2 separate regions of the Homo sapiens genome follow, and region 2 is linked to region 1. The links come from fine-mapping of genetic effects on gene expression. A gene starts in region 1. The other region holds a variant in brackets. All regions are shown on one strand. Distances are between the middles of the regions. Region 1 holds the start of LEKR1 (leucine, glutamate and lysine rich 1). Region 2 overlaps LINC00886 (long intergenic non-protein coding RNA 886).

The links. PIP is the estimated chance that this variant, and not a neighbour inherited with it, causes the effect.
Region 2: its variant is the best candidate, but not a certain one, in a credible set for the expression of LEKR1 in prefrontal cortex (BrainSeq, PIP 0.86).

Annotation. Positions count from the first base shown.
Region 1 is chr3:156,823,735-156,828,129 of GRCh38, reverse strand. LEKR1 (leucine, glutamate and lysine rich 1) reads right to left here and starts at 1,777. Exons shown (of 13, transcript NM_001004316.3): 1 at 1,754-1,777. RefSeq lists a silencer at 636-930 and an enhancer at 1,245-1,304.
Region 2 is chr3:156,773,518-156,777,912 of GRCh38, reverse strand. The region is part of intron 1 of LINC00886 (long intergenic non-protein coding RNA 886); the gene reads left to right. Among named protein-coding and RNA genes, the nearest start is that of LINC00886, 41 kb to the left of the region's middle. The variant G/A (reference allele first, on the strand shown) is at 2,111.

The DNA of each region.
Region 1 (4,395 bases):
CCACATAAAACATAATATGACATGTGTGGTAAAGTTAACTGAGGTCTGCAATGGAGGTACCATTAACCATGTCAACATAAGCCCAAACATAATCTGATGTTTGGCAGATTGTCATAATCATGTGGCAAGAGCCCAGAAGGCTCATTATTCTCATTTCTGTCATTTAATGGTGGATTTGCCATCAGTAAAATGAAATAGTAACTTCAACTCTATTGGGAGAATTTTCCAAAAAATTACCATCTAAACATCCTTTTAAAATTTCACCCATAAAGTTATCTGAGAGCACGGATCTAAATGACAGTATAAACAAAGCACCAGTAGAACAGTTTTTGTGTAGTGCCTTCATTGTCTGTGAATCTATTCCAACTTTATGGCCTTAGCATAAGAAGGGGAGGAATTGGCAGGTTCTGATTATCGGGGGGAAACTAAAAATTAAAAGTCCTGCCAACCCAGAAAATGCTCCACAATGCAGAAAGACAACAATTTTATTAGGCATTCAACTAGACTTTGATGCACATCACGGCTAATCTGCTAATGAGGTTACAAAGAGAGAAGGAAATCCCTCTTTTATACAGCCAAGGAGACACAATCCATTACACATTCTCAAGGAAACTGGTAACGTGTCCTCATGTAAGAGGGCTTAACATAGTGTTCTATACATTCTTTTATATTTCCTCTTTAATTCATCTGGTAATTGGGGTAACCACCTGTGTTAGCTAACGGCTTTCCTCCTAAGTAATGCACAGCTCCATAACGAAACAGGTGTTTACAATTAGGAATAACGCACCTAGGTTAAACTCCCAAAGTGACAAGGAGACTGGGGCCCTATCTTCCTTGATGTTTACATTTTAAAGAAATGGCTTCCAGGTCCTCAAGAAAAGCATTCCTAGGTCTTTAAAAACATTTGCATACATATTAAATAGAGGAAGCATTCACAAATACTAAGTTTCTCAAGAAAAAAGAAGGGTCTTTCCCTTTTGGCAACAGGGAAAATCTGTAATTTTTTAAATTTAGTCTTACATAGTTTTGCGTGTGTTATCAAACAAGTCCCTTTAATCCTTTCTCATTGCACGTATGTGGACCGCACTTTGGCAAGAGGTGCAGTGATAAGTGGCTGCAGCTACGTGGGTGTTTGTGAACCTCCTCTCTAACAAGATCACCGAAAAGACATTTTTTAAAATGCAGACACGTCCTTGTTCGTTTCCAATTCCGTTTCTCACACTAGTGTCACGTCAGGCCATTAACTCACGTTCAGCTTTCAAGCCCTTACGTAAAGAACCATTCCCATGGCGTGAATCACCCACAACGAGCAGGTCAGGGGCAGGTGAAGGCGGGAGTTCACATCCTAAGACTTTCCTGAAGCGGCAGGCTCTTCCACACAGAAACCAACCGCAAGGCCAGACAAAACTGCTGGAATGGCTTTCAAATCTGTCCCTTTCTAACCCCGTTCCCCCTGGACCTGCAGTGGCCGGAAGAGGAGGAGGAGGAGGGTGCGGGGGTGAGGAAGCAGAGCCGCGCGTTCCCCGGGGCTGGGAGGAAGGCGGACCGCGCCTGGGCCCCGCGGGCTGGCAGACACCAGGAAGGGGCCGCAGAGGAGCGTGGTGGCGGAGTCCAGACCCGGGGCCTCGTGCTCTCGCTGGGGCGCCGCGGCTCAGCTTTCTGGCTCTCTCCCCGGGTGCGAGCACGCCTCCACTCCGGAACTGCATTTGGAGGACCGGGTCATCCCAGGCTGAGGAAAGCCATCGTCCCTCACCTCGACTTCGACTAGGACGGGTGTGAAACGGCTTTCCCGGTCTCCCGGGCGACCGCGCCGCCAGTCGGCTGGACGTCAGGGCGCGGCGACGTCACGGCCCACGTCTGTCGTCAACGCTCCCCTGCACCGCCCAGGGTCTCACGCGCCGGGCGGAAGTGGGAAAACTGGTGGTGGGGCTCGGAAGGCTGGGCTAGTCTTACGCGGAATGCTGTGAGAGGGAGGGAAGGGGATCGAGGGATGAGGTGGGCGAGAGTGGGTCGGGTGCTTGGTAGCGACTGCTGAGATGGAGGGAGCTGTCCCAGCCTCGTGGGGGGTTGGAGAGAGGCACTGCCGGGAGTCGGGAGTCGGGAGCCTATAGCCCTACCTATCACCCCTTGCTCTGGGGCCTATGTGGTAGACACAGCAGTGAGCAGTTACTGTTCTTGAGCAGAGGAAAAAGAGATGCCTGTAGAGGTCATGGGTGTAAAGGGAAGTTCTGGTTTCAGTCATTACAGCCAGGACAAATTAATTGGGAAGGCGTTGGTGACATTTCCATTCTAGTCCAAAGTAGTGAAGATTAAGGGCTTAGTTCAAAAAGTATTTTGAGACCTCCTAGTCTACACTTTATTTATCGCAGGCTACCCACCCTTACACGTGACTAACTTCCCTTTGTTCATACATTCATTCATAAAACAAGTATTTATAGACCTACTACGCGACAAGCAGAGCAGCATACCGAGATAGGGTGATACTCTGTGACTGGTCAAGGCAGGAGCAGCCATTGGTGTAATTAGCAGGTGACTCATTCGTAGTCCAGATCTTGCCTTTCTGAGGATTATATAAGGTCGAAGTACAGTTCTTCCAAGAACCAAAGAAAACATCGATGGCTCTGTAGCAGGCAAAGAGACTGGTTTGCTATTGAATAAAATAAGATTAAGTAAATACAAAGAAAATTAATTGAACCTATAGATTTAGAGAAGTGATTAAATGACGCAGAGCAGTATCGGTACACCAAACTGCTTATTGATAACTACTAATTAATGACACCAGGAAGTACTGAACACTAGTGCCTTGTTCCTTGGCACTAAAAAGTCTAGTAGATGTGGCTGGGCGCGGTGGCTCGGGCCTGTAATTCCAGCACTTTGGGAGGCCAAGGCGGGCAGATCACAAGGTCAGGAGATCGAGATCATCCTGGCTAACACGGTGAAACCCCGTCTCTACTAAAAATACAAAAAAGTAGCCGGGCGTGGTGGCGGGCGCCTGTAGTCCCAGCTACTTGGGCTACTCGGGAGGCTGAGGCAGGAGAATGGCGTGAACCTGGGAGGCAGAGCTTACCCTGAGCCGAGATAATGCCACTGCACTCCAGCCTGGGCGACAGACCAAGACTCAGTCTCAAAAAAAAAAAAAAAAAAAAAAGTCTAGTAGATGTATCTTGTACATTTAACCTGACTGATATTTTTGCCCCAATGCCTACCCTTGATTTTCTGTTTCCACTCCCTCAAAGAAGAAAGGATTAAGAGGCCTAGAGGACAGTCAACCAAGTGGTCAACTATAACATGCTTATGAGAAGCCCAAATAACTTTCAGAGCTATTCATCCTCGTCATATTTATCTGAGAGATAGTGAGGGTAGGACTGCTCTCATTTTGTGATAATGGAAGTTTAGATACAGGGCACCAAAACTGGTACCTATCTGGGACAGGAATTTGCACACCTAATGCAAGATCACTCTGTTCTGAGGCTAGTTTTCTTTATTGAGTACTTTGTTTATAGGATAAGGAAAGGCAACACTTTAAGGATGGGAGAAAATCCAGCTCAAAGGCTGCAGTTCACTCCTTGGTTTAATTTCATCTGTGTTTATTTGTCTGCATATTGCCTTTGAGACCAATTTCCTTTCCACTGTAAATTTCCCTTAGACCTGCACTGTCCAGTAAGGTGGCCTCATGTAACTAATTTCACTAAAATGAAGTATGTTTAAAAATTCCATTGCTATATTGCATTAGCCATATTTTAAGTACTCAGTAGTCATGTAGGTAATGTATGATACACCATAGATACTGAACATTTTCATTATCATAGAAAGTTGGGCTGGGCGTGGTGGTTCATGCCTATAATCCCAGAGCTTTGGCAGGCTGAGGCAGGAGGATCTCTTGAAGCCAGGAGTTTGAGACTGGCCTGGGCAATATAGTGAGACTCTGTCACTATAAAAAAAAAAAAAATTAGCATGGTGTGGTGACACACACCTGTAGTCTTTACTCAGAAAGGCCTAGGTGAGAGGATCACTTGAGCCCAGGAATTTGAGGCTGCAGTCTATGATCTGGCCACTGCACTCCAGTCTAGGTGACAGAGCCCGACCCTGTCTCTTAAAAAAAGAAAACAAAGAAAAAGAAAGTTGGAAAGCAGTAGACCCCAGTAAGAATTTCAAAGGATAAGAGTTAAGTTGTGATGAATGACATTTTTTAAAGCGTAGCAGCAAAAAGTGTTATTCCTGAAAGAAGATAGTGCAAAGGAAGTGTTGTGACAAGATGTTACAAAATAGGTTTAAGAAAAAAAAAAAAGCCACGAATCCTGTGCCCTATGTTGGTGTTTTGTCTTGGTCTCTCCCTTTTCAGGTTTCTCACTTGCCCTCCCTCTGTCTTCCCACCCCATTACTGTCCATACTAGA
Region 2 (4,395 bases), 50 kb after region 1:
CAGCTATAAAAACTGAGAAGAGTTCAGTGGGTTAGGAAGAAAATCAAGACAGTGTGATGTTTCCCCAGCCCTGAGCATGAAATTAGTCAAAAAAAGGAGACCATTCTCATCTGTGTTGCATATTATTAAGAGGTCAAGTAAAATGAGAATGAAGAAAAAGCCACTGCATTTGATATGGCTTTTTTGGGGATTTTTGGTGATTTTGACAAGATCAATTTCAGTGGCATCCTGGCAACTGAAGCCAGAATGAAGTGGGTTGAGATTGAATGGATTCAATGCAATTCTAGTAAAAATCCAAATAGGATATTCATTTAAAATCAGCAGACTGATTCTAAAATGCGTATGTTGTCTTGTGATCCACTACCTATACCCATCTTAAGGTACCATTGTGACACCATGTCAACACAGGGCTTCTCTGAGGAGCAGGTATTTCGAACAGGCTGCAGCTGGGGGATTGAGGAATACACTTTTTGTTCTGGGATTTCTTGCTAAATGTCTTAGGATGTTTTCACATCCTTATACACACTCCTTCAACCCAACCAGGTTTAGCCCAGAGGTGGAGTGCAGAAATGAACACAGTGACAACACTAGAATTTTACATTGTGGTTGGTTCCTCCTCAGCTGCTGAAGGCTTTTCTTTTGTCCTGTGAGAAAGAAACTTACCTTATATCCTATCCTGTGTATCCCTACTCTGGATACTGAGAATAAACTTTGGTTTTCATTTCTCCTCTTGATAAAACTTTGGAGTTTGAATCAATCTTTCTGTCTCAAAAAGTCAGACTTCTGCAAGCCAAAAGAGCTTGCCCTTGGGATATTTTGTATCCCTAGAGACTTAAAAAACTGTTTTGAAATTCAAAAATCTAAGCAATGACCTCTTTGTTCTATGCTGTATCAAATATAGTACTTTGCTTTTCTATGATAAAAAGCCTCAGAATCTATCTGTTTTTAATGGCTGTAAGGTTGAAAAAACTCCTGAAATTACTGAAAAGGAAAAATACAATGAGATTTTTAAAAATATTATCCTGCTTTCCTCTTAACATGGAATTCCCTGCCCCTCAGAACACAAGGTCCCTTTCTATAGTTTCAATTGTACTTCTCGATAGTTCCCCAATTTATTTCGTATTCCAGCTACAACTGCTTTCAGTACATGTAATTCCCAAGAGCACCAAGCACTTGGATGGCATCATGTCTTTGCACATGTGGTTCCCTTCTGCCTGAAATGCCCTTCCTTAAGCCAGCCTCCTCACTTTAAAAGATTTTAAACTCTTGTGCTAGAGATTAAGCTATTTTCTGTCATCTCCAAACCCACCTTTGTCTACCTTGTTTTGTGATGCTGGGGTTGGGACTATGCAAACCACCTTTCTCTTTTGCCAGCAGAATTCCTTTTGGTTTCTGTCTGTGTGGGACACTAAAGAAAGACCATGAGGCAAGAGAGGATGAAGGGACTCGTTCCTTTCTATTTGCTTGCTGTTCCTGTCCATGTTACCCACTAATGACCCTTCATCCTGACAGCAGCCGCTGTTTCCAGTATCCAGCTTCTTGGCACTCTCATAACCAGGTTTCATCCCACCTTCCTCAGAAACACAAGCACTACCAGCTAATGTCCCCTTCCCTGAGGTCTGAGTCTTATGTCTATGAGGATGTCTTCAAGCTTCTAAATTCAGATAACCCCAATCTCTTCCTTTTGCTTACTCAGACCTAGGGGGATGCAGCTGCTTCCTCAAGTTACTGCCTCTGTGAAACCTCAGTGTGCCCATTGTGCCTTTTTAGTTCTCCAGACCTGGTTAACCAATTCCCTATATTAAATTTTCTTGGTTGAATTTTTTTTTTTTTTTTGAGACAGTCTCGCTCTGTTGCCCAGGCTGGAGTACATTGGTGCAATCTTGGCTCACTGCAACCTCCACCTCCCAGGTTCAAGCAATTCTCTGCCTCAGCCTCCCAAGTAGCTGGGATTATAGGCACACGCTACCACACCTGGCTAATTTTTTTTTTTTGAGACGGAGTCTCGCTCTGTCACCCAGGCTGGAGTGCAGTGGTGTGATCTCAGCTCACTGCAAGCTCTGCCTCCCGGGTTCAAGCCATTCTCCTGCCTCGGCCTCCCAAGTAGCTG[G/A]GACTACAGGCACCCGCCACCACGCCTGGCTAATTTTTTGTATTTTTAGTAGAGACGGGGTTTCACCATGTTGGTCAGGCTGGTCTTGAACTCCTGACCTTGTGATCCACCTGCCTCGGCCTCCCAAAGTGCTGGGATTACAGGCATGAGCCACTGCCCCTGGACTCTTTGTTGAAATTTTTAATGTGTTTTTTGTTTTCCAGACTTATAATCATTCTCTATTAAGACTATCTAAGCCATTTTGTTCACTCTCTGCCAAAGCATTTGTTTCTGTGCACCTTGCAGAGGGCTCCTTTGAAGTGCTTATCATACTGTATTAGTATTTTCTTAGATGACAGTATCCTAACACTAGATTGTTAGGGCTCAGAGATAGAAATCGTATTTTATTTATTTTTACATCACCTGTGTTCATCAAAGTGAGTACAAACTCAGTAAGTGATCCTTAAATTAAATGAATTAATGAATATATGACTTAAATGAACAAATGAATTAATGAATATATGAATATGAATGTATTCAATTAATTAAGGAAAACATAACTGTATACATAGATTAGTCATGCATTATATCCTGTTTAAACTTAAAATGGCAACTCTTTATATACGGAATAAATTCCAAGGCCCCTTTAATTTGGCTCCTGCCTGCCTTTCCATCTCTCTCCTACCTCTTTCATCCCAGTCATACTGAATGGATTAGAGCTTCCAGAATACACCCCCACACCTTTGTCCTCACCATCGTTTCTTCCTGAAATGCTTATTCATGTCTAATTCCTCTAGCATATCGCAAGCTATTTGAAGTACTCCTTTATTTCCATCACCCAGAAGAGTTCTATAATATAGTAGATACTTAATGTGTAATTATTAAGTAAGCATTTCCATATTGCTGCAGTTTCCATAATGATCCCTTTTGATCTTTGCATGTATTTTATGTAGGTTATATGCCATGGCTTACTTAATCACCACTTTATTATTGGATATTAAGATAGTTTCCAATGTTCACTACTATAATTAATTCAAGAGAGCACTTTTTGTACAAGTGCTTGTTTGGTTGTAAAGAGAGTTACAATTTTTTTTCTTAAAAGAAGGATAGAGCATGAGGTTTATTTTTAAACAAAAAAAAAAATTTTTATGTTTCTCAGTTCATGTCAGTGATAGCAGGCCTAAGTCTAGGGGATACTTCTGAGGCCATCATGTTTTTAGAAGGCCAGTGACATAATCTGACTTACAATAATTTAAAATATTTCCTTAATGACTTGCAAATCAAGATGCCAATGTCCAAGTATTCCAGATGCCAGTCTACATGCTTGAACTTTCATTGTCTCCAGCTTCTCTTTGAGTACACAGAGGTAGAATCCAAATAGGTGGCATTTGACTTTGGGAGTGGAGGGGTATAGATTTGAGGAATAGAAATTAAAATAGAACTTAAATTACCATCGTCAAATCATATGAAAGCTCTTTTTACTCTCTTCATTTGGTAACCTCTGGAAAATAAAGGAATACCTTGGTACATAAAACAGAAGCACTCATGAAAATTTGTCTTAAGTAGAAGTAAGTTCTTCTATTGCACTTTGTTTTCCTAATTGTATTTCATTTGGCAATTGGAGATGTGTTTCCAACTGTGACATGAAGTCCAGCCCATTATCCTTTTCTAAGGTGTTTTCTTACTACATAGTTTCAAATAGGCTTAGAATTTCCAAATTGAAGAAGGGAGAGAAGTAGATTTAAAAAAAAAAAAGAGAGAGAGATTAAGAGGAGAGTGGTGTAAGCCTAAAATGAACTTCACTTTTAGCTTTGGGACATAGACCTTTCTAGACCTGTTTCCTCATCTATAAATTGAGTAGAAGATCCCCAAGGACCTCCCTAACTCTGAATTTCCATGACTTTACATGTTTTAGTCCTAAAAAATACTCAAACCTCAACTAAGCTCAAATGAGATTTTGACTTTCCTGAGTCTCAAGAACAAACAGCGTAGCCTAACTCCCTTGCAGGTGTAAGTCATCTTGCATTCCCTTCTCCAGATCAAACGAAAAAATAACCCAAAGAATTTAACTGCTGTGACTTCTCAGGAAACCTTTCCCTACTTCATTCGTTATGATTTGTATGTTCTCCTTCTTCCAAATCTATGTGGAATCTGACTTGAACTCATTTTGCACTCTTTGTTGACATAAACTTCTGAAATAAATCTCTTACACCCTGCAAAAGACAATTTTGCCCAGTTTAATTTAATGGAAGTGAATGACCCCTCCTTGCAACTTCTCAAGACTGTTTTTAATTTTATATTGTTGC